7 linked regions of the Homo sapiens genome follow. The protein of the gene in region 2 interacts with the protein of the main gene of each other region in a pairwise test. Each region holds a gene or a part of one and is shown on either strand. Other genes may lie near its edges.

Region 1 (3,500 bases), on a different chromosome or scaffold from region 2:
AGTGGCTTTTTTCACTTAACATAATACAGTCAGGGTTCATTCATATTGTAGCATGTGTCAGAATTTCCTTCCTTTTTAAGACTGAATACTATTCCCTTGTGTGTACAGACTGCATTTTGTTTATCCATGTATCCATCGAAGGACTGCGTCCACCTTTAGGCTATTGTGAATAATGCTGCTATGAACACAGGTTTACAAATACCTGTTTCAAGTCCTTGCTTTTAATTTTTTGAGGGTATATACCTAGAAGTAGAATGGCTGGATCACATGGAAATTCTATGTTTAGTGTTTTGGGAGTCATCATACTGTTTTCCATAGAGACTGCACCATATTTACACCAACAGTGCACAGGAGTTTCACTTTCTCCACATCCTCCCTAACGCTTGCTCTTTTCCATTTTTTAATAGCCTCATGAGTGTGAAGTAGTAGAGATTTTGTATTTTTATTTTGTTTTTATTTTTTGAGACAGAGTCTCGCTTTGTCTCAGAGCGTGTACCACCATGCCTGGCAAATTTTTGTATTTTTAGTAGAGAGACAAGGTTTCACCATGTTGGCCAGGCTGGTCTCGAACTCCTGACCTCAGGTGACCTTCCTGCCTCGGCCTCCCAAAGTGCTGGGATTACAGGCATGAGCCACCACACCCGGCTGCTTTTGTATTTTTAAAGCAATCTTGCTGGCCACAATCTTACTGGATTAAAGCCTGTGCGTGGCGAAGGGCAGAGTTGCAGACTCCCAGAGCATCACTGTCTTGTGCATGGCAGAACTGAGCCCAGGGTGCGTGACTCCTCCTCCTGTTTTCCCGCGGGTTTCATTTTCCCTGGGCTGTGCAGGTTCCCCGAGTCCTTTCCTCCATCAGGACCTGCTGGCAGCAGTTCCCGCAGGCCACACTCTTCAGGGGACAGGGCCACCCCAACCCATCCACTGATGGGGGATTTTCACACATGTGGACTCAATGCTCTGGTTCAGTGACTTCCTGTGACACCTTTCTTTGGTGCCACTCAAAGTGCCTCACATTCTCACTTTCTTTTCCTTTCACTGTTTGAGGGCATGATGATGGCTTATTCACTCTGTAATCATGTCAGCATAAAGATGTTCAAAAGTCAAGCACATCTCGCATAAAGAATAAAGACCAAGGAACTGGTTAATACCATAGTGGGAGGTTTTAGCTTTTTTGGGGGGTGGGGGGAGGACAAGGTCTCGCTCTGTCACCCAGGCTGGAGTGCAGTGGTATGATCTCAGCTCACTGCAGCCTCAAACCCCCTGGGCTCAGGTGATCCCACCTCAGCCTCCTGAGTAGCTGGGACTTTAGGCGCGTGCTATCATGCCCAGTTAATTTTTTTTTTAATTTTGTAGAAATGGGGTTTCACCATGTTGCCCAGGCTTGTCTCAAACTCCTGGGTTCAAGCAATCCTCTTGCCTCAGCCTCTCAAAGTGCTGGGATTACAAGCGTAAGCCACCGCACCTGACCTTAGCTTTTTTTTTTGAAGCAGCCAAACCCTTTATTAAAAAGTGTGATCTAACACATGATCCCAATGCAGGAGGCAAGTAGAAGAGGTGTGGTTCTGCTTGGGTGGTCGCGGTGTCTGGAACCACCATGACCTCCCTGGAGCACACCCCACCCCATACAAGCCCAAGGTGATATCACCGTTACACGTCACGGGCCGCATGCGACCCACACTCCCCTAGACCTGAATCTGTCTTGGGCATTTATATTTGACTTTTCACCTCCACAGGATACTCACTGTTACCATTCTGGCTCTCTGTCTTCCAAGCCCTGGGAATGCACAGGTAAGATTTTTATTTTTAAAAAATATCTACAAGCGTATTAAAATCCGGGGTGAGGGAGTCCAGCCTTGCGCTACGGAACCCTAGGTTTGTGGGGGTGGGAGTGGCTTTACAGTTGACCTCATCTGAGCTCTTCATTCTCAGAGGTTAACAGTGGAAGCTCAGAGAAAGTGAGACTTGGCCCAGGTGACATGACTTGTAAGTGACAAGGCTGGGGCTGGTACTCAGTTTCCTGACTCCCAGTCCAAGACTCTTTTCTATTTTATTATAAGTTCTAGGGTACATGTGCAGGATGTGCAGGTTTGTTACATAGGTAAATGTGGGCCATGGTGGTTTGCTGCACCTATCAATTCATCACTAGGTATTAAGCCCAGCATCCATTTTTAATCAGATCACATGGCCTCATTTGTGCCCCTCACAGCAGGCCTCAACCTACCTTCAGTGTTGAAAAGTAAAATATGCTGTAGTGTTTCTGGGCAATGGCACCTGAGGACCCCCACGGGTCTGCATGTGTTGCCACAGACACACCCCTCCTGGAGGAGGTGGGAGAGGAAGTGGGTGTTACCCAAACATCCCAGCATGTAGTGTTGCATAATTCAGCTCCAAACCTAGGAGGGCCCATCCCTGGGCTGAAACCCCTCAGAGGAGTAAGAAGGGGGTGGGTGAGGCCAGGCTCAGGGCCTTAGGGGTTCTGGAAGAAGCTTGCAGCATCCTGGACTTTATTTTAAGCAACAGGAGAGATGGACCCCTGTGTGTCAGCCCTGAAATGTGGGCAGATCCCTCCTGAAAACTCCGAGTGGCCTCTCTGTGTCTCTGGCTCAGGAAAGAAGTGAGAGAAGCCCTATCTCTGAGCAGGCTGAGGGCTGCAGGCAGGTAGGGGAGCATTTTCTCTCTTCATATTAAGAATTTTGAAGCATATTCAGGCCACTGGCAATGGGAAGGATTTTGGGAGGAGTAACAAAGAATTTTAGACCTTGCGGTTTTCTAAGGCAGCCTCATGGTGTACACATGAAGACAGGTAGGCCCCAAGGGCAGAGGTTCAGGGTCGTGTTTACTGCACTTTAGGCACGTTATATAGATTAACATACATCGTCCTTACCACCATTTTGAACTACGTACATACCCCCCCATTTTACAGATGGGGAAACTGAGGCATAGAAAAGTTACGCAGAGAGTAGGGGCTAGAGTGAGAATTTGAAGCCATGCCCTGGTCCAGCAGTCTTGAACCTATGCCAGTCCTTGACAACCAGGGCTGGAACCTGGATCTCCTGGCCTCCCAGCTTCCCGGCACAGCTTCCTGGCTCGTCTGTTCCACTTCCTTTGCCCCAACTCCCTGGGACCCCTGAACCCTCTCCCGGGAGTGCAGGCCATATACATCATCTCTGCAAATCAACCAACAGCTCAGCGAAGCCCAACCTCCGAAGCTGTAGAAAAGGCCAGGGATGGGAGCTCCTAGAAAATGTCAGGCCCTGGGGTCTTCCTGAAGAGTCCACCCAACACATTTTTTTTTTAAGTACATACATTTGTAGCTCAAGTTGTATGTAAAAGCTACAACCCTCTGGAATTGTTGAGATCTATCTCTTTCTGGAAGCATCTTTATGTCGTCATCTTGCTGAGGTTGAAATGGAGAAATTTACTCAATTCAACTTTTCTTAGAAAACTGACCACATCTCTGTGTAGCTTTTATTTATGTACAGACATCAAAATCAGGTAGA
Region 2 (3,249 bases):
TAGCTGTCCAGAAAGACTGGAAGGGGAGGCTTAAGAGTTTAGTAGGGGCTGAAGGGGGGAAATAATACATCTCTCCTGTATAGAATGTGTAGGCCAAGCCGAAGCACCGGTCCCCCCATCCAAGGGGCAGGGTGGGTTTGCACATCCCCCCAAGCAAGTGGCACAAAAATGGGGGCGGCAGTGCAGGCAATGGACATCTTTTTGGGGGGTGAAAATTCAGTTTTGGAGAAGACGAGGCAAAGGCGGGCGGTGCAGCAGCAGCAACAGGATCGGGACCACGGAGGGCGCAGGTAGTTGCGTTTCTTCTCCTCTTTCATTCCTGGGCTCACAAGACCTGGAACCGCCATGAGGCTTGGTCCTTATAGTCCAGACAGTCGGGGGAGTTGAAGTTGAGTTTCCAGGCGGAGGAAGCAGCAGCGGCGCCAGGCTCCTTGTAATCCAAGCAGTCGGCAGAGTTGAAGGCAAGCCCAGAGCCACCGTAGCCTTGGTGGTGGTGGTGGTGATGGTGGTGGTGGTGGCCTGAGGACTGGCTCAACGGGTGGTGCGCATGTGGGTGGTGATGATGGTGGCCCGCCATGGAGGAGGGTGCCATGGGGCTGAGCTGGTGCGGGTGGTGATGTGAGTGCATGGGCGCTAGGTATGAGCTGCAGTCCACGCCGCCAAAGTAGGAAGAGGAGGGCGTAGGGTAGCCTTGGCCGTAGCTGCCGCCCTGGCCGTAGGACATGGGATAAGAGGCTGCTGCGGTGGCGGCGCCTGCAGCTACGGAGCGCTGCATACACGAGGTGTTGCTAGGCGCGGCCAATGGCTCCGGCACCGACACGGACGCGGGCGCTGAGCCTGGCGAGATGGAGGCCGGGCTCCAGATAGATGAGGCAGCTGGTGTACTCAGCGACGACGCGGCCGCCACCGGGTTCCCACCTAGTCCCGCAGCCGCTGCAGCCGCTGGGTTGGCGGAAGAGCTGGACGCCGAGCTAGAGGACGAGGCAGAGCTGGACACAGCTGGCGGCGTGAATTGGCCACTGCTTTCGGAGCCCGAGCTCTCCCGCACTGGAGAGGACTTCTTCTTGGCTGGGCGGCTCTTGGTTCCGCTCCCGCTCTGCTGCTGCTGGCGGCATTTGGCGCGGCGGTTCTTGAACCAGACCTGCAGTGGGCCGGATGGGGGAGAGTGGGTCAAAGGGAGCTAGGGGAGCTTGTTGCTCCACCGCCCCGCGGACCCAACTCCCGGTCCAGAATATCGCAATCCTTTCTCACCGAGGCCTCCGCCCCTTCCTGTCTCTGGCCTGGCCAGACCCTGCCCCCTACCTCGGTTCCCAGCTCCTCCACCCTCCCCCATCCTTCTGCTCAAAGCCCCTCCTCAGCTGGCTCCAGAGCAGGGATGCGCACCTCCCCACCCCTACCGCAACTCTGCCCTAGGGCGGAATATTTCAGTCTGCCCAGTCAGAAGTTCTGCCATCTCTAAATTGCTGCTGTTGGCTGCTTCCGTGTATGTTTGGAGGCCCCGTGTGTGTTTGGAGGCCCAGTTTTCTACTAACAGAGCTCAGGCAACAGTGGAGAGGTACAGAGCCGAAGAGTGTGGAACAGTCACCAAGTCTAGGGCCTGAGCCGTTTCACTGAGCAGCTCCTGGAGGCCAGAACTGGGCAGGGCGAGTATTTGGGTGGGGGTAGGAGCAAGGCCAGAGGCTAAACAGAGGTAGTACTTGAGGGACTCGGGAAGGAAGCCTGGGTGGGATTTCGTTGGCCCTTTGGCTCCAGGTGGGGAACCAAATGGAATGGTTACTCTTCTAGGAGAGCCCCAGCACATGGCACTGCATTCCTGGTCCCCCTTCTCAAGCTTTCGAGTAAAGGAGGCGAGACTCTTGAGGAGAGTTCTGAGTTAGAATCCGAACGTTATCATCGGAACCCTTTCATCTCAAAAACAGAAATAAGAAAGCCGGCAGCAGGATTTTGCACTTAGCATCCTCTGTAAGCAGAGGAAGCGTCTAATGAGACCCAGGCAGAGCACCAGGCTCCAGCCAATCTCCGCTCTTCCATTTCTAGGATTCCCGGGGTGGAAGACAAGGGCAGAGGCAGAATTCAGGCCTCTAAGGGAAACTGCCAAGTCCTGGGGCAGGCGAAGAAGCAGGGGCAAGTGTCAGGCCCGCAGGGCGCTTTACATTCGGGAGCTTCCCTAGTCCTCCGGCAATTCTAAAAAGTACTTTCGATACCGACACCGAAGGCGCCCTAGGGCTAAAGGCGGAATCCAGGGCTCTAAGCCATTTCCTTTAACTTTTGCCCCCTTTCCTGGCTGGGGCCCAGCGCTAGGGGGAGTCCGAGAGCGGCTGCCCAGTCTGTAAGCCCACCCCCACAGGATGGTCTCCTCAAGAACTACTCAAGAGCCTTCCTAGACCTTCCCCGAGCAGCCTCAGCTCCCCTACCCAGACCCTGGAGCCCGGGGAGTGCGCACCTGGACTCTAGACTCCGGCAGGTTGATCTTGAGCGCCACCTCCTCCCGCATGAAGATGTCAGGGTAGCGAGTCTTGGCGAAGAGCGCCTCGAGCACGTCCAGCTGTGAACGCGTGAAGGTGGTGCGCTCCCGCCGCTGCTTCCGCGGAGTGGCTGCGGGGACACGCGGGGGCGCCGCGGGTCATTGGTGGCCACGTGGACCCGCGATAGAGGACTCGGGCAGGCCCCTGGCAGGCCCAGATCTCGGCCTTCGCAAAAGAAAGCCGAACTGGGAATAAAAGAAACTCCCTCGGGCGGCCGAGCCTGAGAGGCCACAGGTGGGAGAAAGTGCAGATGTGCGACTAGAAGCCAGTGTCTCCAAGATTCGAGGGCTGCCCCTCTCTATGCCTCTCAGAGGTTAAAAAAGTTAAGAGAAGTCTACAATCTCCCTTCTTCTACATCCCCTCTCCCCTGCACACACACACGCACACGCACACACACGCACACACACACTCTGGATGGGGGACAGGGAGTGGGGAAGAGGTAGGCAGAAACACGACCTGAAAAACACTTTCGGAGAAAATAAATGAGGTAAAGGAGCGGGAGCTAAAAAAGAAACCCCGGCTTTGGCTCAAGTCGTCCTCTACAGCAGCGCAAAAATGGGTGCAGGACATCGATTTAGAGGACAATTTAATTAGGGAGGAAGAATACTCCTTCAGTGCAGCCTGCCGCTTCGCATAAGGAAAGTTTGGCTCTTTCTGTCAGGGCCTAACGAGTGTCCAGATTACACATTCCATGTTGGGGAAAAAGGAAAAATACTAGCCGCCC
Region 3 (4,498 bases), on a different chromosome or scaffold from region 2:
AGGCCAAGGTAGGAGGATTGCTTGAGGCCAGGATTTCACAACCACCAGCCTGGGCAACATAGCAAGACCCCTCTCTACAAAAACAAACAAAAATCAATTAGCTGGGCTTGGCAGCATGCACCCATAGCTACAGCTACTTGGAAGGGTGAGGCAGAAGATCACTTGAGCCCAGGAATTGGAGGCTGCAGTGAGCCATGATCCAGCCACTGCATTCCAGCCTGGTGACAAAGTGAGACCTCAACTCAAAAAAACAGAAAAAAAAAATGAGGCAGACATATATATTGTGCTGTAGAAATACAGCCAAAATAAAGTCTAAAAAGCAAGCATACATGTAGTACATTTATATATTTAATAATTAAAATGATATAAAATCTACAACTAATATATCCAATTGTTATCAGGATTTATACCTTGATGGTGTTGGGGGTGGGGGGGTTTGAGCCAACTTCAGCTGTTTTATATATTTCAATACCACCCAGCTATTTTTACAACATGCACATATTATATTCAATAACAAAATATTACTTCATTTGACATATATAGTTAGAAGTGTAGCAATGGCAGTTTTGTAGGGGAAAATGCCCATTTACTTTTAAAATGCTAATTTACTTTTCAAATGCTACTGTAATAACATCTGTTTCAAATTTCCCTTCCCAAAGCATTCTTACTATGCTTGTATCTTATTTGTTCCATGACTTCTTTAGAAGAATATAAAGACAATAATGGGTCACTTTTTAATATACCACATGCTGTCATAGAATAGTAAGTGAAACAATTTTCTAAGTGAAACAATCTTCTAAACAACGAATATTTTATAACTTCTACAAGCATTTCAAACATACTGATTAAAAAAGAAAAAATTAAAAACTCAGCTTTAACACTAAGAACTGAGGAAGAATACCAAATAGGAAGAAATAAAGATGTGGAAACACAGTAACACAAAATATTACTAGGTAAGTACAGATCCAATAAGATGGCAGAAGTTGGAAATTTTAGATAGAAATGTACCAAATCTAGAGAGACAATTCTACTTTTTATCAGTGTTACAAATATCATGTATTCCCTACCAAGCTTTTTCTGAATGGCCTCCAGTATGCTGTCAGAGTTTCGAAGCATGCAGGGTGTAGTAGTGCAGACCTGAATGTGATACTTTCCAACTGGCTTTCGATTATACATTGTATAAAAAGTTGCTACTTCATATACTCTCATTGGAGGTACTTGTAAAACTTCTGCAACCTAAAATATTAGGACATTTAAAAATAAGATAATTACAGTGTTAGTAATGGAGCTTTAATTATGTTGTACAAAGTATAATTTCAATATTGTCTCAATTTGGTAAAAACAGAAAAGTTCTTCAAGAGCAGAAAACATACTTGTCTTGGATAACTGGGAGATATAAACTCTTCAATTTTTGCAGACAATGTACTTACACTTAAACCATACAGAGCCCGAAAGTTAATGGAGTTAACAGCACTTCCTCCTTCTACCCTACTTCTCACCTCTGTAAAAGGATATTCTTTTTCTCTAAATCTTTAAGTATTTCACTATTAAGAATTTCTACTTTGATCATGTCAACTCACATTTTATAATCTGTCTAAATGGCAAAAAATTGATGGCCAAACCCCAATAAAAGAAGCAATTAGATTTTTTAAACTCTCACCAATTTTTTCCAAACAGCCTACATACAAATGGTACAGCAACAGAAAAAAAGGTTGAAAATCAAAGCTCACTATTGGCCCATATTTTAAATATGTAAACTCAAAATTTTATATCTCTACATATATGTATACACATATTATCATACACAATCACACACTCCTCTCCCAGAATCCAGCACACTACTTCTATTTCATATCACAATACTCTTTTGAAAGTTGAATCATATAGTCTAGTACTTTCTAACCCTTCACGTCAAGACATTAATAGAAAACAATTGTTTTGACATTCTGGTGTTCAGGACTAAGGGGATCACTAACTCAGCATCTTTTCTTAGGGCAAGTCTGTTAGGGAAAACGAGGATTTCTAGCTGTTTGCCAGGGCTGGTCCTTGTCTATCGTGATTTATAATTCTGTCTACAACTTTCTAGGTGACCTATTATCATTAAGACTTACTATCTGGCATTCTTAAAAATTATAGATATATCCATATTCTAATATAAAAGAAGAGCGGGCATTTCAGACAAGTATGTTAACTTTCTCATATTAGGAATTCTAAAGGAAATATATTCTCAAAAGACATCTAATCATGGCTCACTTGTGACAGATAAAGTAATTGTGCTATTTCATTCGGCAGTTCTGAATCAAGGACGTATCCCTGAATCTGGGGAGCTCTCTATCAAAATATACATGCTGGAACCCTACCAAAGGAATAATAAATCTGGAATGAGGCTCTGACTGTCTAATTAGGAAAAGACTCCTTCCTGGAATTCTGCACATCTCCCTACACCTTAGTGACGGTTAAATAAATAATTATTAAGCTTCTGGATATTTTTTGTTGTAAGGTTAGGTGTTTCATGGGTTGGGGGGAGGGGCAGTAACATTAAAATAAAAGTCCCAAATGTAAAGTGCAAAGAATCTTGAGTCTATTCCCTATACCCTACACTTCCTGCCTTTCCCCCACACAAATCCAACCCTAAATATAATAGGACAATATATAAATACATATTTTTTAAGAGATAGGGTCTCACCATCTTGCCCAGGCTGGTCTTAAGCTCAAGCAATCCTCCCACATCAACATCCTGAGTACCTGGGTCTACAGGCATGCACCACCATGCCTGTCTTATTTTTTAAATGTTTTCACTTTCAGTTTCTTATTTATTTTTATTTTGCTCTGCTAACGTGCCACTCAGCAAGATTTCCAACAGGCTTACCATTACTAAAAATATGATTTTTTCAAAATAATAACATTATAATTAGAAACATATACCTAAATCATTATAAAGTTGGCTATTTTAATTTAAAAAAATGTTAAGTAACTTCCCAAGAAATACATAATTTATCGAAGAAATAACCACCTATGTTTACTCAGGATAGTAACTCACTAAACTTGCTTTATAATATTTTTCATAGGGAAAAACCAGTGTTATAGTACTATACAATGCAAATAAAATAAAATATCAATAAACTAAATCTAAAATTTGCATTTAGGATTCTATTAGATAAATTGAGGACATTCCTATTCTCTCAGAAAGATGATTGTCTAGCCTAAGAGTTATAACCAAATTAAGTTTAGAAAGTGGTAAGAATGAAGTACAACAAAATCTCTGTTATAGTCAGTCAAGTAGAAAATGCACTGATTTAGAAATGAATTCAGTCCTAGCACTACCGCTCAGAAATCATAACTTAATAATTAGAAGAGGTCTACCTGGTTCAAAACTTTCATTGCCAATGAGGAAGTTCAGAGAAAAATCAGGTGTCTTAGTTCTAAGTCAAAAATATTTTCCATTATATAACACAGCTTAATGGTTATGTGATTCTCATCAGAATCAAATAGTATGTGGTTTGTGTATGGCACTTTATAAATGATATGCTGTAATACATCACCACACAAATGTAGTTATTTGTATTAACAGGATACGAATAAACTTGAAATTTGTATTACTGCTCAAAACTATTAGGAAAAATGAATATTATATGAATAGAGTAACTTTGAATAAAATGGGTCATCCATAGCATTTCTATAGGTCGTTGATTCCAAAGTAGCATAATCAAATTGTATAAATATCACCTATTATACAGATTTTTCTTACAGCCTACAGCCAAAGATGTAAAATATTAAAAATTTTCATACTAGTGAGCAGATCTTCTTTTCTGTAATTCTAGTGTTTAAATATTACATTAATTTTCAGAATATCTTGACACTAAGTTATACACATTTGGAATCTTTTATCTTTGACCATTTCCTTCAAAAGGAAAAAAAAAAACACATACCCTCTTTCACCATAATGCCTTCCTTATTTCCTGCAAGGTTAGAAATCACCTCTATGCATTAAGGGAATGAACAAAAACACAAAGACAATTCAAGGAAACATACAAATGGCTAAAGGGCTCCAAAATCCTAGATTCTGACACTGGAGATGATCAGAGTAATTTCTATAAAAGGAAATTATCATACACAATCTCTTCTCTTTTAGAACTAAGGCAAAAATGAATCCAGTACCTTGTTCATAGCAGAGATGGGCAACCACCCATTCTGCCTTTGGGCTAAATCCAGGACTGGAAGAACAGCTGCTGCTTTATGGCCTTCTGGATAGTTTTTTACAATTGCCTCTATCCTCTGTATAAAAGAAAGAACATCATTTTATACATCTAGAAAATATTACCTATTTGGTAAATTAATTATAATGTTAATTTAGCCATACCTTATAGTTTTCTGGTGTGAAATCAAATGGAGTATCAGGGTTATTCTCAGGAGTATCTCTGTGCTACACAACAAAAACAGTTTTTCAGACTTATCCAAATTCTCTCAAGTGTGAATGACACTGTACATTACTATACTA
Region 4 (3,544 bases), on a different chromosome or scaffold from region 2:
GGGTTTCTTCTCTTCTGATTCTGCTGCTCACTGTCATAGCCTTTTGTGTATAGTGATGTGTCTGTATCTTTAATGTAAATAGAGAGATGATGAAAAAAGAGTCTATTTTAGTGTTAGGAAGCCCCAGCAGGGGAGTCGGAAGAGCTTGGAAGAGCTGGGGAGAGGGTAGGGGAAAGGTTTTTCCAGGGGCCACTGGGTTTGAGCCCTGCTTCTGTGCACAGCCACACCACCCTCTCCCGACAGCCCTCAAAGACGTAGCAACTCTTTCTCTCAAGGTGCTAAAGGACTCAGAAGGTGCAGCACGTCCAGTGGGTAGGTACTTGTTGCATGCAAAAGCTGTAGTGTATCTGGTCCTTCCTCCCCAGCTTTTGTGTGGGGTTCTTGCTTTGTGTGGTATTTTGTTTTCCCCTCTAATGAGAGGGCATGGCCTGAGTCAGAAGAGCTACCCCAGGTGAAACTGGAAGTGCATGAGGCAGAGCGTCCGTAGCATTTCCAGTTTGTTCTGTATAGGAACAGAGGTGCCTCCGGGAAGGAGGCAGCGAGGTAGGTAGCTATGATAGGCACCTAATGCTTCTCAAGGACTTATTTTTTCCTTCTTGAAGACTAGTAGTAACATCTTATGATTTAGAGTAAGTTGATTGTAACCATAGGTATTTATTGATTGGAGGAAGGGAGGGTCATATTATTTTCGGCTTTATTTATGTAACATTTGCTAGCTTGTAAAAGGCGAATGTGAAATATTGCATCTGCATTTTCCAAGGCTGATTCGTGTAGCTACCCTTGCCACAGTTGTGACGGATGTATGGATGTTCTTGAACATTTCAGAAGGAGTGGTAGAAAAAAACACACATTCAGCCAACCACTTATATGAATTGAATGTATCAGAAGTGTACTGAAGGGACTGGAGATGGTTTTCCTCAGATGAGGGGGCCCCAAAATTGATAGTGCACATCTGCACGCTTTCTGCGAGGCCTCAGAACTTCCCAGGGCCCCTCCCTCAAATTGTCTCCATGGGAAACTTGACCCAGTGGCAAGTTGCACTTTGGTGATCTTGGTGGTCTACACACCCGTTCTGTGGAGAGTCGATTTACATAAGCTGTGTATACACACACACACACACACACACACACCCCTACCCCACACTGACTGTCTACCGACAAAGACCCTATTTCCTGGCAAACGGCCTCCTGAACCCTGACTTTTTGTGTACATACTTGTAAACACGGATTTTTCTGGGTTTTGGTTTGCTTTTTCCTTTTTTCCCCCTGCCCCTGTTCTAGCTTGTTCTTCTTGGTTTGCTTTCAACCTGCTTGATGGATGTCTGCAGAGTGCTCTCTAAGAGTCCACCTCAGTGCCTCGTGTGCTCAGTGGTCATGGGAAAGGAGCGAAGGAACCATCCTTGGTTCTCCCAGCTTGGTTGTGTAGCAATCCCTCAGCATTGTTTTTCTCAGCTTCTTGGCAAAAATTAAAACAACAACAACAACAACAACAACAACAACAAACAGAAGGATAAACTGGCTTGCCTGTGGACCCTCCCCGGCTCTGGGGCCAGTCGAGAGCCACTGAGGGACCCAGCACTCAGAGACACAACACACATGTGTAGCTGCTTCTGGCTGAGTGTGTTTCCTGTCACCAATGGCCTGTTTGGCTGGACGATGCCTCGGCTTGACCTTTTTTGAAAAGTGCTGGTTAGTTCCCGCCCCTGGTAAACCTGGGGTAGGTGGGGGTTCTGTCTTAACTCGAGGGGCACCTGGGATCCAGGACGCTTCTAGGGGGCTCTGGCTGCCCGTGTTAATGAAGGACAGCGCTTCCGCGAGCACCCTGGGAACTGGGTCTTGGGTAGCAAAGCCCTCCCAGAGAAAAGATTGGGCACAACTAAGGCTTTCCTGAGCAGGAAGGGGGTGAAGACCAATCCCTTCCTTTGGTCCTTTGGTACGCACCCCCTCAGAGCTGAGATGGAAGACATGGCTAGTTCTTTTCAGCCTTGTGGAGCCTGTCAGTCGCCATCATACCTCGAGTGAGGCCCAGCTAGATAATGACTTGTCCAAGATGGCACACGTGGAAAGTTGATCTGCACCAGAACCCGGATGACTGTCACCTTGAAGCATCCTGTTCTCCTTCTGTGCTGTCCCAGGAAGTGTCTGGCGGGCGTGGGCAGCACAGCTCTACACTGTACGATTCACTAGGGCATCCTGCGAGCCTCACTAGCCTTCTGGTTCATGCCTTTGACAAGCATTTTTGTGCCCCCTCTGCTTACTGTGACAGTCGATGATGAATCTTGCGTTGCCATTTTCTGCTGTGGGTAACTGCGTGCAGTGTCTTGCCTTGCTTTCTCTTCTTACTGTCCCACAGCTTGGTTTCATGTTACAAACAGAAAAGCTCGAGGCTCCCACCCCGCCACATCCCAACTTCATTTCCCCCTCACTGTAGCCCATTTCCACCCCACCACAAAGTTGCCACAGGTTTTCTTTGTATAGAATATTTATTTTGAAGCTCTATTTTAATAGTATTTATTTTAGAAAGTCTACTATTGTAAGAGTTCTTCTGTTTGTGAAGAAAAAAACAAGTTAAAAACTGAATGTACTGATTTAGAAAATATATATAAATATATATTGTTAAATATACACGGGACTGCCGTTTCTGGTGTGTTTGTGTGTTTACTTCCCTGACCTCTTCAGCCAGCAAGGCCTCAAGTTTGAGAATAAGCAGCCACTGAAAGGGGAAGAGAAGATAGGGCTTCCTGGGCTGGGCAATCCCTTCTCCCAGCTCTAGGACGACCGTAGAACCATCGGAGGAAAGCTGCTCTTCATTATGAAGCGGAATACTGCAAGGAGCTGCTAGAGCCTCCTTCCTGGGAAAGCTGTCCCCTAAACTGGAGTGTGCTGCAGATGGACAGCAAAGCTCCAAAACTGGGAAGAGGTAGAGGGGGAAAAGTGTCATCTGACCTGTCCATTCCTCTCCCTTTATGTCCCGATTGCCCCCAAAGCAGGTTTTCACACACATGAACACACAACATACATGCTTCAAGGAACTAAATAGAAAAGCCCTTGGTCATTTCCGTATTTTCACAGGATTGGTGCATATTGCACAAAACTAGTCCTTTTAGCCTCGAAAGCCTTCCATCCATTTCATGACCTTCTAATGTACCTTCCTTCTGTTTTTTGTTTTGTTTTGTTTGAGACAGCATCCCAGGCTGGAGTGCAGTGGAGCGATCTCACTCACTGCAACCTCCACCTCCTGTGTTCAAGCGATTCTCCTGTTTCGGCCTACTGAGTAGCTGGGATTATAGGCACGCACCACCATGCCCGGCTAATTTTCTGTATTTTTAATAGAGACAGGGTTTCACCATGTTGGCCAGGCTGGTGTCAAACTCCTGAGTTCAAGTGATCTGCCCGCCTCTGCCTCCCAAAATGCTGGGATTACAGGTGTGAGCCACCGCGCCTGGCCAGCATCTTGCTTCTGATTCCCTCGTACCCCCACCCCTGACCAGGGCACTCAAACTTTAGACCCAGCCACTTCTCAATTTACATAGCTATGGGAACTT
Region 5 (4,498 bases), on a different chromosome or scaffold from region 2:
TGATCCACCTGCCTCGGCCTCTCAAAGTGCTGGGATTATAGGTGTGAGCCACCGTGCCTGGCCAAGAAACTTTTTAAAGAAAAAGTTTGCTCAACAGATAAGCTGAACCCCAGTCAGCAAAGGGCTTTGTAAACTGTCCTTGGGATGCAGCTCAGAGAGGAGGGTCCTCAGAGGGTGAGGTGCTGCCTAGGGGGCACCTGCAGCCACAGCAGCACCAGGCCCACACCCTCCGCAACCTCCCAGCCTATCAGGGACCTGAGGCGCAGATGGAAGTGGAGTTGTGGACACAGCAAGGGCCTCCACTCAGCCAGAGAGAAAGCAAGCTGCCCTGAGCCCAGCTTTCCGTGGCATCGTGGCCTCAGGCAGGTGTATTGTGAGTCTTGGGCCCCATGACAACTTGGTTGGGCCGGGCCAGCCTGCAGGGGGCAGAGAACAGCCAAGGGCCCAGCCCTGCCCACTGATGCCACCCCTGGTGCAAAGTTCCCCCACCCCAGCGAGGAGGAAGGGCCGGATGCTAGTCAGCCTGTAGTGGGGTAGCAGGACAGAGTGGGGTGGTCAGTGGCACCTCTTCTGCCACAGTCCAGCCCGTGCTCTGGGCCGGGAAGCAGGTACGGACGCTGTGGGCGAGGGCGTGGCTGCCCGCAGGAGGGAAGCTTCTGTCTCCCCAGCCATCCTCCAACCCTGGACCCCACCATCAGGTCATATCCATCATTTCACCAAGAGGGAAACAGCCAGGGCCAGAGTTCCTTCACCAGTAGAGCGGTAGGGAGAACCTGTGCTTCCATCCTAAGGGACTTTACCCTGAATTGCCAGGGCCCTACACGGGCCAGAATCCCAGGCCCATCTGTGGCCAGTGGGACCCTATGTGGGCTAGAATCCCAGGCCCATCTGTGGCCAGTGGGACCCAGGGCCTCTGGCGTGTGAGCTCTGCAGCATGTTGGGAATGGTGGAGGGGGATGGCCAGAAGACAGCACCCCAGACCCTGCTGGTGGCCCAGGGGAGACACTGCAGAGAGCTGTACCCCTGTGAGGGGGTGGCACTGAAGGCACTCAGCCCAGCCTGGCACCCGACTGCCCTGACACCTGTCCCCTGACATGGATGCCGGCTGGCACGGGCCCCTCCTGCTTCCCACCAACAGGGCCTGGAACAGTGCTTAGGATTGACCGCGCCTCTACACACCATCTCCCCTCACAGACCTGGCAGAAAACACAGCTCCAAAGCTGTGGGGAGGGAGACGGGGAGGGAGACAGGGAGGGAAACCTTGTTTGCACCAGCACCAGGTACCCCAGGGTGGCCACTTCCAAGGAGCTCAGCTGGCATCCTCCAGGGTGGGTGGGACATGATGCTGCAGCTGACGGGACCTCCAGATTAGCCCCAGCTGGAGACCGGGCAGGACCAGGGCAGCATGTAGCACCCTGCGTGTCGCTAACTCATCCCAGAGGCCAGCTTGGCACTTGTCCCCAGCTTGTGCATTGACCCCCAGGGAGGTTCATTTAAAAGCACCCAAAAGTGTCAGTGCATTAAGCAGGCTAAAAATAGAACCCGTCCCTACACCTCCCACCCTGCCCACTGCTTGGCTGTTCCTAAAATAACCGCGCGCGCACAGCCACGCACACATCTCCGGCTGCGATGGGGAAAATCAAGTTGTAAGTGTGAGCTGGTATTTTGGTCCCAGCAGGAGCATAGGGGCTGTTCTCTGTGGGCTTTGGGGAACGGGGAGGCATCTTAGGAACCCAACAGGACAGACAGACGTCCGCAGTGGTTCCAAGGAGAGGCAGAAACAGGCATTGCCGCCCGGCAGGACGTGCCCCTTCAAAGGGGTGTCACGCGGTGACCCCTCTGGGGGTGGGGCTGGCAGGAGGAGAAAACCACAGCTCCCCTAGGTCAGGGGCAGGGACAGACACCGACCCCTGCCGCAGCGTCGACAATAAACCTACCAATGGTCCCCCCTGCCCGGCCCACACGCCCTGAGCGCCCCCTGCGGACACCCCCCTGCGTCCTCACACCCGAGGGGCAGACTGGCTTGCAGCACTTCTGTTCAGCACCACGCACTGCCTGGCAGCCACGAGCGAGCAGAGCCCTGCTGGGGTGAGGGCCTGGCCGTGCGCAGATCCTATGTAGCCACCGTCCCACAGCCCTTCATTCCCAAAGCCCTTCATTCCTGCAGCACTGGTCAAGGGAGCAGGGTGGGATTTGCAGAGTGAAGGTCCCTTCAAGGGGAGGCCAGCCCTGTGTGAGGCACCAGGACCCCCAGCCTCGCACACCGAGTCTAGCCTGGGACCCCCAGCCTCGCGCCGAGTCTAGCCCAGGGGGACGCTGTTCTTCCCTCCAAGCTGCCTGCCCTGGAGGAACGAATTTGGGGGGGGGGTGCTGGGTGAGGCTGACGGTGAGTTGCACACAGCGGGCCTCACGTGGGAGCCGGCTCCAACCCCAACACCCCCCATGGGTGAGAGAAACCTGGACTGGCAGCTCCCCCCAACCCCAGACCTGACTCCCAGCCCCAGGGCCAGCCTTGCCCCCAGCTGTTTCGCCTCTGGGTTCCTATCCAGGACACAGGACACTCAAGCGGTCATCTCACGGCCCAAGGCTACTGACCAGGGGCACAGACTCTTGGAGCAGCTGGGGTTGAGCACGTTGCGGGGAGCGCAGGGATCCCATGCTGCCTGGAAACCAGGAGTTTCGTGTGCTTTCTGGACAACCTGGGGGCAGCCTCTCACGGAAAGAGGTATGACACCTGCCCCACCTGGCTTCCTAGGGGAGGGTCCCAGCGACCTGAGGGCCACCACTCCCGGCTGTACCCCCACCCTACTCCACCCCTGGAGAGGAACAGGGGAGCAGTGACCTTGCTGGAAACCCTCAGGAAACACCAGGTCAGCAGAGAGGTGGATGTTGCCTCCACTGGGACCAGCCTGGTGGCCGCCCACTCACCGTACTGGACTTGAGCTCATCCCCATTCTCCTCGTCGGACTCTAGAGCGACAGGCAAGGATTTCTGGGGCGGGGAGAAGGTCAAGTCCCAACGCAGCAACCGGGGCTCGGCCCCGCCCAGCCGCAGGCTCGCCAGTTTCTGCACGGCGGGCTCCGCGGAGGAGGCCGGCCTGAAGTTCTCCTTGTTCTGGGCCTTGGACCGCAGTCTCTGCACCCCGAAGCCCCGGTCCTCGGGGCGGTGGTCGTCCCCCAAGCCCCGGCAGGCGCCGCCCTTGCTGTAGCGTCTTTTCTGGGGATGCGTCTCCATCCTCAGCAAGGGTTTCATCTCCATCCGGTAGTTGCTCAGCTTCTCCTCCTGCAGCTCCAGCAGCCTGGAGCCTCCGGGGCTGTGGTTGCTGGCCCGGTGGTGGGAAGTCCACGTGAACACGGGGGGTGACTCCGTCCGCCGCTCCCGCGGCTTGGGGTTCCCGGGCTGCTTGCGGCCCGAACCTCGGGTGCGGAAGTCATCCACGAGCAGGCCGCCGCGCAGGGCACCGCTGCGGACACCCCTGGAGCCCCCGGCCTGCTCCTCGCCCCAGCTGCTGCGGGCGCAGTCCCCGGCCCGGCCCTCCAGGAGCATCTGGATGTCCCCGCCCCGCTCCTCGTCCACCGACACCTGCCTCGAGAAGTGGGCGACCTTGTTCCTGGCGGCGGGCGCGGGCGGCGGGGTGGCCGCGGGGCTGGTGGGGAAGCTCTGCAGGGGGCTGTCGTCGGGGGTCAGGTCGGAGGGAGTGGTGCCCTTGCGGTACAGCTCGGGGCTCTCCTGCTGCAGGGGTGTCCCGGTGGACAGCACCTCGATGTCGTCACAGGAGGTCTGACGCTTCGGCCTCTGGTACTCCAGCCCTGTATGGGGACACAAGACGACGCCAGACGGCGTTACCCAGCACATTCCACAGCGAGGCCGCGGTCCCCGGGCCAGGGCGCCAGAGGGAACCTCAGGGCAGCAGAGGCGCTTCCCACTCACCGAAAGGCTGCAGGCAAGGGAGGGGAGTGGGGACCGTGGCTCCCAAAGCCCTCTGTGGGACCCCCGTGGTCCCCACCCCACAGACACTTGGAGGGAGACTGGCTAGGCCCAGGCACCACAGGAAGGGCGGACAGCAGCTCCCAGGCTACAAGGGAGACCCAAGGCTCGGAAAGTGCGTGAGGACGCTGGGGTGTGGACTCAGGTCCCACCAACCCTGACTCGCCTGTCCTGAGGGTAAGAGGAAGCCCCTCACCCTAGCTGACCACCTGTCTGGGGAGGCCGAGCTGTCACAGCAAGGCCGCCAACACCCCTACCCGCCTGGGACTGTGTCTCAGGGTGCTGGGACAGTCTTGCTGAGAAACAGCCAGTGCCGGGGCCAGCGTGAGAGCCCAGGAGCCGACTTCCCTCCCCACCTTTCGAGGCTGCTGGGGCTTCAAGTCCTAGGGCGGGGCTCCCCGGAAGGGGAGGTCACCACAGGACCCAGGGGCCAGCTCTGCAGCCAGCAGAGTCCCTGTCGTCTGCCGGTGGCTCAGTCCCCATCAGCCCCCACCCGGAGGCCTGGATAGGG
Region 6 (4,498 bases), on a different chromosome or scaffold from region 2:
CGGGGACCCCGGAATGGGATTATCTGAGGAACCTTAGAAATGACCTTTGATAGCAGGGTAGAAAATACGCCAGGAGAGAAAGAAAAGGAGATTAAAGCTGCACAATACTTCAGGAAGAAGTATGAGTGGTCTAGATGAGAAACACCGAGGGCCTGATTTATAGCAGGATGAGCCGCAGACAAAACTCCTCAGACACCGAGTTAAAGAAGGAGCAGTTTATTCGGCCAGGAGCATCGGCAAGACTCCTGTCTCAAGAGCCGAGCTCCCCGAGTGAGCAATTCCTGTCCCTTTTAAGGGCTCACAACTCTAAGGGGGTCCACGTGAGAGGGTCATGATCGATTGAGCAAGCAGGGGGTACGTGACTGGGGACTGCATGCACCAGTAATCAGAACGAAACAGCACAGGACAGGGATTTTTACAATGCTCTTCCATACAATGTCTGGAATCTATAGATAACATAACCGGTTAGGTCAGAGGTCGATCTTTAACTGCCAGGCCCAGGGCGTAGCGCCGGGCTGTCTGCCTGTGGATTTCATTTTTGCCTTTTAGTTTTTACTTCTTCTTTCTTTGGAGGCAGAAATTGGGCATAAGACAATATGAGGGGTGGTTTCCTCCCTTAGATTGAGGCAGTGCTGATGAGGCAGAAAGACAGATTGAGCTGATTTTTAGGAGAGAAAATTCAGAATTGATAAAGCTAGCTTGGTCTTTGAGTGTAGGAAGATAAAAAGAAGAAAAAATAGCACTCTTGTTGTGTATCTCTTACTTGGAAAATGTAATGCTAAGCACATAAAAATGCTCAGAAAGTTATTTAATAAGTAAGTCTCCATAGCATTATCTGGTCTTGATTTAATTTTATTTCCAATTTTAAAATTACTTTCTATTAACTGGAACCTCCCATGCTTTACCCAGCCTTTTGGTGTGTTTCCAGTCTACAAGGATTCTCTTAATATTTCCAAGTAGAAAACTAAAAGGTGACTTTGTTTTCCAATCACATATTTATCTATTTAGATAGTCATTAGCATAGTATTCAAAAGCCATCTAAGAATGACGTTGCATGACTAAAAACAAAGAAGGAAAGATGTCAAACCTCAATACACAAGCATGAGCCTTCTTTTCATTGCAGGCCACACAGAGGAACACCACAATTTTTCTTAGTATTGAAGTTCATCTCAACCTCAACCAATCTTTAACTGTGTATCATAGAGTTTTTTTTTCATAGAAAACAATTTCCAGTTTACAGAAAGAAATGTCAAACTCAGTCTATCAGAGCTTTAGAATTAACAAGGAAGATGAACAACACAGTATAAGCAAAATTGCTCGTTTTTGTAAGCTAACTGCAACCACAGAGGTGAGAAAGTCTTCCATTGATATGATGGCTATCATGCATATATTTTTATATGTTTCTAAGAATTGAAAGTAGAACTATCAGGGCTTCAGATACATTTTGAAGAGATAATGTTATTTATTTATTTTGAGTCAGGGTCTTAGCTCTGTCATTCAGGCTGAAGTGCAATAGCAAGATCACAGCTCACTGCAGCCTCGACCTCCCGGGTTCAAGTGATCCTTCCACCTTAGCCTCCTGAGTAGCTGAGACTACAGACACTTGCCACCATGCCTGGCTAATTTTTAAATTTTTTGTAGACACGGGAGTCTCACTATGTTGTCCAAGGCTGATGTCGAACTCCTGGGCTCAAGAACAGGTGGTGGGTCAGCAATCCTCCTGCCTTAGCCTCCCAGAGTGCTGGGATTACAGGCATGAGCCAGCAGTCCTGGCAAGGAGATAATTTTATTTATTTATTTATTTAGTTAGTTAGTTAGTTACTTATTTTTTGAGATGGAGTCTTGCTCTGTCACCCAGGCTGGAGTGCAATGGTGCCATCTCCGCTCACTGCAACCTCTGCCTCCCGGGCTCAAGTGATTTGCCTGCCTCAGCCTCCTGAGTAGCTGGGATTACAGGTGTGCACCAACATGCCCAGATTTTTATTGTATTTTTAGTAGAAATGGGGTTTCACCATGTTGGCTAAGCTGGTATCAAACTCCTGACTTCAGGTGATCTGCCTGCCTCAGTCTCCCAAAGTGCTAGGATTAGAGGTATGAGCCACCACGCCTGGCCAAGGAGATAATTTTAAATGATCAAAATTTTTGGAGGCATATCATACATGTACATGTATGATCTCTGAAAACTGTTTTAAAGATAAAGTCAGCAAAGTACAGCCTGTTGGCCAAATCTGACCCACCACCTGTTCTTGTAATGCTGTGAACTGAGAATAGCTTTTGCATTTTTAAATTTTAAAAGGTTGAAAAAAATCAAAAGAAGAATAAAATTTTATAATATGTGAAAATTACCTGAATTTCAAATGTCAGTGTCCATAAATAAGGTTTTATTGAAGCACAGCTCACCCATCCGTTATGTACCAGCTGCATTCATGCTATAATAGCAGAGCTGAGTGGTTATGACAGAGACTTTCTGGCCAAGAAAGCCTAATGTACTTACTAGCTGGCTCTTTCCAGAGACTGTTTGTCAACCCTGTTTTAAGAGCTTTCCTCTAAAGAAGCACAAGCCTTTAGTAAACTGAAGACTTCTTCATAAAGATTTTCTGTGTCAGTGATACATTATGTTAAAAAAAGAAAATCCATGAATTTAGTAAAGATAACATTGATATTATAGACTAAAACAATAGGCATGACTTTAATTATATTTAGGATGCTTATTTTCCCACCTTATTTCAGTAGCATAGTTATAAGAACACACGCTTTAGGGTGATCATTCTTTTTTCTTGAATTTTGTTGAGCTTTGCATGACCTTGGACTAGTTACCTAACCTCTTGTAAGCCTCAGGTTTCCTACAAGAACAGAATAATAGCAATACCAACCTCATGGGAGTATGGTAAGTACCAAAATGGATAAGTGGGGCATTTTTGGGGGGGAATTACTTAGCTTGTTATCTGGTAGTAGGTGTGCAATAGATTATAATTATCATCATTCTCTGAAAATGTCATTTTTGCTTTCTGGTGCTCCATTTCTAGTACTGCCTGTAAGGTCTATTTTGACAAGGAAATCTGTAAGACCCTGCCAACATCATTTTGCATAGCAAGAGCCCTTCTCTGTGTTACAATCTGGACAAAAACTGTCCTCAGTTGCATGAATCCAAGAATACACTTGACAGAAGAATGGAAAAAAGGAAGCCTAGGAAGTCTAGAAACAAAAATCATAGTGATGAGCAGTGCTGGAAGGCTGGTCAGCAGCTAGAGTACAGCTTGTGAGCAGCATATTGGGATTTTTTTTTTTCCATGTTAGACTCTATTCCAACTCTTTCTATTGAGAGTCCACGGTTTTGTGATGGGTTGTTGATGAAGGAAAGCTCTGAATTTTTTAGAGCGGATGAAGTGTTTGTCATTTTATTCCATTTTATGTTAGGTTAACACTGCCATTTTTCTTTTATTATTCGATGTCTTAGCTGATGTCTCCCAGGCGAAAAGTACCCAGAAAATCATGAGAGTGCAGTTCCTGGAAATTCAGTTATTTCTTTCTCGCTGGGCTTGCTCTGCCTTTAGAATTGTTGTGACTCTGGATTCCTGCGGAGGAACTAGGGCCTGGGGTGACCTCATGGCTCCTCAGCTATGATGCACCTTCTCTTTTCTTCCCTTATCTCAAGTAGGTCCTGAGCAGCCCAGCCCAGGTGGTCTCTTCTGCTCACCAGGGGTGGCCTGGAGTCAATTGATAAGAGCCCTCTTTTCTTGGCCCTTACAAAACAAATTTCTGCCTAAAGACAGCTAAAGGGAAGAAAAACACCACCAAACCAACAACTCCTTTGTACCTCCATTATCCCCAAAATTAGATAAAGAAAAATTAGAATACCAGGAGGCAGCAGACACCTCCACAATGCAGCTCGGAAACAGAATTTCTATAGATCTGCTGTCCTTTTTTTAAAATCACATAGAAGAGTTTGTACAAATCTCATTTGTTTTCACTTCCTTCATTTTTGTGTCTTAACACATTATTTTGAGGAAAATGCCTCTGAATTTTATCCTTGCTCTTCAATTACGGTTGAACAGGAACTGTTAATTGAGTTTAGCCACTCAAAAGAAGAACAAAGTATTTCATCATTCTTACATATTCTGGTTGGACTCATGGTTAAAGAAGACAAATAGAAAAACTCACACATCAGCCTGGTGTGGGGATAAAACCAAAAACAGTGATGCTCACAGGCATGCCTGAGAGTGGAATGGTGGTGTTGGTGGGGGAGTGCCTGTTTACTGGTAGTAGGAGTAACTCTCGTCATCATATTCCAGCTCATCTATGTCATCGTCATCCAGCAGCCCATATTTAAATTTCCGGTAGACTGTGCCATCCTGGCCCATGTAGACGATGTCATCATCATCATCCTCATCATAGTCCCGATCCCTGTACTCAATCACCTGATCCTCTTCAAAGCTGGTGCTCTCTCTATAGCTGCTCTTATAGGAGGAGTAAGACTTGTTGGGGTCGGCCAGTTTTT
Region 7 (4,498 bases), on a different chromosome or scaffold from region 2:
GGCAATGGAGTGATATCTGCAAGGTATTGTGTGCGTTATTTCTCAGACAGATTTTTTTTTCTATGGTAGGTTCTGGATGAGGCCCTGTTAAGATGATCGTGAGATTATAGAACTCACTATGGGACTCTTCCTCTAAGCACAGAACATTTGTTAACTTGAGGCCAAAGAGAGGGCTGCTGGCCTCAACCAGACTTTGCAGATGTCGCCTGAGAATTGTTCTATTTGATTCAAAAACATTTGTTCTAGGCATTGTGTACAGATGTAGAGATTCAGAGGAAAATAAACATAATCCCTGCCTTCAAGGTGCTCAGGGTCTAGTAAACAAATAATTGTTGTGTGAGAAGGACATGAAATAATTGTGGTACGAGAAAGATAAAAATGAGGTGCTATTCCCAGGCAAGGATGGGGTGCCAGATTTAACTAATGAAAATACAGGATGCCCAGTTAAATTTGAATTTCTGGCACACAATAATTTTTATAAAATATGTCCAGTGCAATATTTAGAACCTATTTATACTAAAAACAATTGTTCATCTGAAAGTCGAGAAACTGCCACTAAGCAGGTCAGTGTGCCTTCCAAAAAAGAAAGGACAAAGTTATTCCTATCTTCTTTGTGATCCAAGACTTACTCTTCTTTATATCTCCAGGGAATACACATTCATGAGTATAATTTTATTGATATTAAAAGGAGAAAGAGAATAAAAATACCAAGACTGCCTAGAGCTGCTATCTTACCATATAACCATAAGGGTGTTCTTTGGAATCAGGGTCGATTACATCTTAATCAGGAATTCTTTAGAAGAAGAAGAAAAAAAAAAAGTCCATTCATTTCAGCTTTTGAAAAGAGAAATTTATGACAAAGATACAGGAAGTCTCATGAGACCACTTCTAGGATATGCATCTGATCTGATACCCAAGGGAACTGGAGAGTCATCAGTTTCTCTCCCTCTCCCTCTTTCTCTTCTCTTCCTCTCTCCCTGCTTCCTTCTCTCTCTCACTCTCTCATTCTCTTTGCTTCTCTCTGGATCTGCACCATTTTTGGCTAGCCCTTAGTTTCTGCTCCCTTAAATTCAGCTTGTATATGGTTTTGAATTGTCATGGCCCAACCCCTGTGTGACCTTAAAGCTCCAATGCCCAACAGCATCTGACCAACCATACTCTGTTTCCTTAGTAAAATGTTCGAGGAAAAGAATCCGAGTGGTTGCTACCTCTAGTAATAAAGGCAAAGCAGGAGTAAGGGTGGTCAGTATACCAATAGCAAATCTCCTAGGGTGGGACCACTCATCCTGGTTGCCAGCCCCAGGGGGACATGCTTTACCTCATAGAGTCCAGCACCCATGGACACACACACACATACACATACACACACACACACACACACACACACACACACAGAGAGAGATAGAGAGAGAGAGAGAGAGAGGTCAAACCTGGCACAGGAAGGATGTGAGATGGGGAAGCCTGCTAGCCACTCCTCCTGCCAGCCTCCAGCCAATTACACTGCTGCTCAGTTGCCCCAAAGCCCTTCTCATTCTTGATACCCTTCTCTTCAGAGCATGGAATGCCCGTGGCTGCCCCACATCCGCATGTCTCTTGACTATGGATTTTTCCTTCCATCTAATCTCATCTGCCTTCTCAGTTTTTAGGAATTCCTCAAAACTGTCTTGCCCATGAAGGGCACTCAGTACTGTTGCTAAAATATATGTAATCTATTATTTTCAGATGCCAGGGAAAGAACGGGTGGAGATACCAAAGTATGTCATCAGTCTACCATCTCAGTCCCTCTTGGCTTTTCTTAGGTAGAGGCTTTTGTTGCCCTTCTGAAATTATGGACTCCTTGAGAATAAAATTCACATCTAATTCATGGTTCTTTCTCCCACAGTGCTTACCACAGCACTTTGCATATAGCTGGTTCTTAATAGTTATTGAATGAGTATATGAGTGAAAATGTGACCAAATAAATGAACAAATAAGGAATGTCTAAATTAAAGAGTGAAGAAATAAATTGATAAAATTAATAATTACAAAGTACCGTAAGATGCCTGAAAGCTGTTAAGTGTTTTATACAGTCAAAAAATAGCATTTCCCTTGAAATTGTGTTTATGTGATTAATTTGCCCTCCCTGTAAGAGAAGGAAATGCATTCCAGTCCCTTTCTTTTTAACACAATATCTAAATGAGCAGAGCCCTAATTAATGAGGTTTTCTGAAAGCTTCATTTTTATCTGACTTGAGGAGCTGCAATATAGATTTTTCCTTCAGAAGTAATTCTTCCTCCCTTCTTTGTGGTTATATTAGCATTCCAGAGGAAACACTGGTTTCCTTAACATTTGTCATGATTTGCATAAGTAAAGCCTTCAATACCAAATGAAAATAAGATGTGTGTTTGAATGACATTTATAAAGTTTCATAAAAGTAATGACTTCATTTCTTACCTATAAAATCAAAATTTTTTCCTTGGCATCAGTTCTATGCAGGTATTCCTGAAAGGTTTCACTTAAAATGTTGCAATGAGGCAGCAGGATCATTTCTTATCCAAAATGCAATATTTCTATCACACGTATTTTTGTTTTAAAAAGTGAAATAACACCTTTTATATTTTATTTGCATAGTCTAGGACTTGATTTTTAAGAGATTTATTTGGTGTGTAATACATGCAGCAAGAAAATTAACTTTAATGATTTTGAAAGGTCCCATTTGAAGGTCATTTTTATGTCAGATGGGGTATATTCATTATCACTAATCATCCCAACCACTGGGAAAGGAGGAAGTGATTGCTTCCATTTTACAGATAAGAAAAATGAGGCTGTAAGAAGCAAAGTGTCTTCCATTTTACAGATAAGAAAAATGAGGCCTCATAGAAGGATGAGTTGAGTGGACACCTTGGTCTGTATCCAAGCCCACAGTCCTTTGTTCCCCTGCACCATGCTCAAATGGAACTAAGTCTGGAACAGGGTAGGCTCAGCCCTGGGGACATAGTACTTTACTCTGGGAGAATGATGTCAAAGCCAACAGCAGGGAGAGCTGAACTTTTATTTTTTGAAAGTCAAGATTACGCATTGAAAAGAGCATTGTATTTGGTCTTGTGTACCTGGATTCAAGTCCCAACTCCACTAGGCTCAGGTCCATGAGGATAGGTGTTGGTCTTACACACCCTTCTGTGCCCATGGTCCCTAGCTGAAAGCTTCTAACATCAAAGAGCCTAATTAATATTTTTGAAGGGTAGAGAAATGTGTTTTTAGGTAAGTCATGTACGTGTTGACCTCAGTTTCTTCCCCTGCTCTTCCTCTGGTCCTCAATATATCTGTTGACCATCATACCCATTTCTGAAAACAGTCTCCTTACTTTGACTCACTGTCTCCCTCTGACTTTATATCTCAGCTGACTTCCATGAAAGCTTCCCATGACAAATCTAACTGCCTATCTGTGTATTAGTTTCCTATTGTTGTTGTAACAAATTAGTAGTTTAAATAATACAAATTATTTATTTCCTTACAATTCTGAAGAAGTCCAAATGGGTCTCACTGGGTAAAATCTGTGTCAGCCATATTGCATTCCTTCTGAAGGGCCTGAGGGAGAATACATTTCCTTGCTTTTTCCAGCTTCTAGAAGCCACCCGCATTCCTTGCCTCATGCCCCTTCCTGAATCTTCAAAGCCAGCAACATTGGGCTGAGTTTTCACACTAGCATCTCTCTGGTTCTGTTCCACCTCCATCTTCCACCTTGAAGGTCCCTTGTGACTGCTTTGAGCCCACCTGATAATTCAGGCTAGTCTCCCTACCTGAAGACCAGCTGGGCCAGGTGCAGTGGCTCACACCTGTAATCCCACCACTTTGGGAGGCTGAGGGAGGAGAATCTCTTGAAGCCAGGAGTTTGAGACCAGACTGGGCAACATGGCAAAATCCTGTCTCTACTAAAAATTAAAAAAAAGTCAGCTGGGTGTGGTGGTGTGCGCTTGTCATCCCAGCTACTTGGGAGGCTGAGGCACGAGACTCGCTTAAGTCTGGGAGGCAGAGGTTGCAGTGGGCCAAGATCAAGCCACTGCACTCCAGCCTGGGTGACAGAGTGAGACTCCATGTCAAAAAAATAAAAAAAGACCAGCTGACTAGCAACCTTAATTCCCCTTTGCTATGTGTGTAACCTAACATATTCAAAGGTTCTGGGATTGGGACATGGACATCTCTGGGGTCCATTATTCTGTCTACCACAATCTGTAAAGTGGATGTCCTAGGTTACATCAGACTTGGAGGTAAAAATTCAAGCCCAACAATAGTTACAAATTGGTAATTTTCTGGGTCTTTCCCTGTTAGCTCTTCAGGAAATGCAGCAACCCCTGTCCCCAACCATCCTCTCAAAGCCCTTCTCAGTCTGCACTGAGAGTCATCCTCGGTGTCTGATGGGGCTGAGGAAGTAGTCCTGCCAGCTGCCCTGAGTCTCTGCAGTGCTGCTGTCTTCCTATTCGGCCTGTGCTCCTGCTGAAACCCCAGCCACACAGCAGGA

Evidence for each region.
Region 1: the proteins of OTX1 (region 2) and FBLN5 interact in binary tests that used the Homo sapiens proteins (3 or more experiments, as listed by UniProt).
Region 3: the proteins of OTX1 (region 2) and NDUFV2 interact in binary tests that used the Homo sapiens proteins (3 or more experiments, as listed by UniProt).
Region 4: the proteins of OTX1 (region 2) and SPRY4 interact in binary tests that used the Homo sapiens proteins (3 or more experiments, as listed by UniProt).
Region 5: the proteins of OTX1 (region 2) and JPH3 interact in binary tests that used the Homo sapiens proteins (3 or more experiments, as listed by UniProt).
Region 6: the proteins of OTX1 (region 2) and PCSK5 interact in binary tests that used the Homo sapiens proteins (3 or more experiments, as listed by UniProt).
Region 7: the proteins of OTX1 (region 2) and TRIM42 interact in binary tests that used the Homo sapiens proteins (3 or more experiments, as listed by UniProt).

Annotation. Positions count from the first base shown.
Region 1 is NC_000014.9:91,941,195-91,944,694, reverse strand, and holds part of FBLN5 (fibulin-5 isoform 1 precursor), read left to right. Parts: intron 1-1,733; coding exon 1,734-1,788; intron 1,789-3,500. UniProt on the Homo sapiens protein: Essential for elastic fiber formation, is involved in the assembly of continuous elastin (ELN) polymer and promotes the interaction of microfibrils and ELN. Stabilizes and organizes elastic fibers in the skin, lung and vasculature.
Region 2 is NC_000002.12:63,053,393-63,056,641, reverse strand, and holds part of OTX1 (homeobox protein OTX1), read right to left. Parts: intron 2,711-3,249; exon of another isoform or gene 2,596-2,710; coding exon 2,444-2,595; intron 1,142-2,443; coding exon 326-1,141; 3' UTR 1-325. UniProt on the Homo sapiens protein: Probably plays a role in the development of the brain and the sense organs. Can bind to the BCD target sequence (BTS): 5'-TCTAATCCC-3'.
Region 3 is NC_000018.10:9,119,251-9,123,748, reverse strand, and holds part of NDUFV2 (NADH dehydrogenase [ubiquinone] flavoprotein 2, mitochondrial precursor), read right to left. Parts: intron 4,424-4,498; coding exon 4,361-4,423; intron 4,276-4,360; coding exon 4,159-4,275; intron 2,485-4,158; exon of another isoform or gene 2,293-2,484; intron 1,237-2,292; coding exon 1,068-1,236; intron 1-1,067.
Region 4 is NC_000005.10:142,309,522-142,313,065, reverse strand, and holds the end of SPRY4 (protein sprouty homolog 4), read left to right. Parts: 3' UTR 1-2,636; downstream 2,637-3,544. UniProt on the Homo sapiens protein: Suppresses the insulin receptor and EGFR-transduced MAPK signaling pathway, but does not inhibit MAPK activation by a constitutively active mutant Ras. Probably impairs the formation of GTP-Ras.
Region 5 is NC_000016.10:87,688,957-87,693,454, reverse strand, and holds part of JPH3 (junctophilin-3), read right to left. Parts: intron 3,810-4,498; coding exon 2,929-3,809; intron 1-2,928. UniProt on the Homo sapiens protein: Junctophilins contribute to the formation of junctional membrane complexes (JMCs) which link the plasma membrane with the endoplasmic or sarcoplasmic reticulum in excitable cells.
Region 6 is NC_000009.12:76,358,678-76,363,175, reverse strand, and holds the end of PCSK5 (proprotein convertase subtilisin/kexin type 5 isoform 3 precursor), read right to left. Parts: coding exon 4,254-4,498; 3' UTR 201-4,253; downstream 1-200. UniProt on the Homo sapiens protein: Serine endoprotease that processes various proproteins by cleavage at paired basic amino acids, recognizing the RXXX[KR]R consensus motif. Likely functions in the constitutive and regulated secretory pathways.
Region 7 is NC_000003.12:140,691,170-140,695,667, forward strand, and holds part of TRIM42 (tripartite motif-containing protein 42), read left to right. Parts: coding exon 1-23; intron 24-4,498.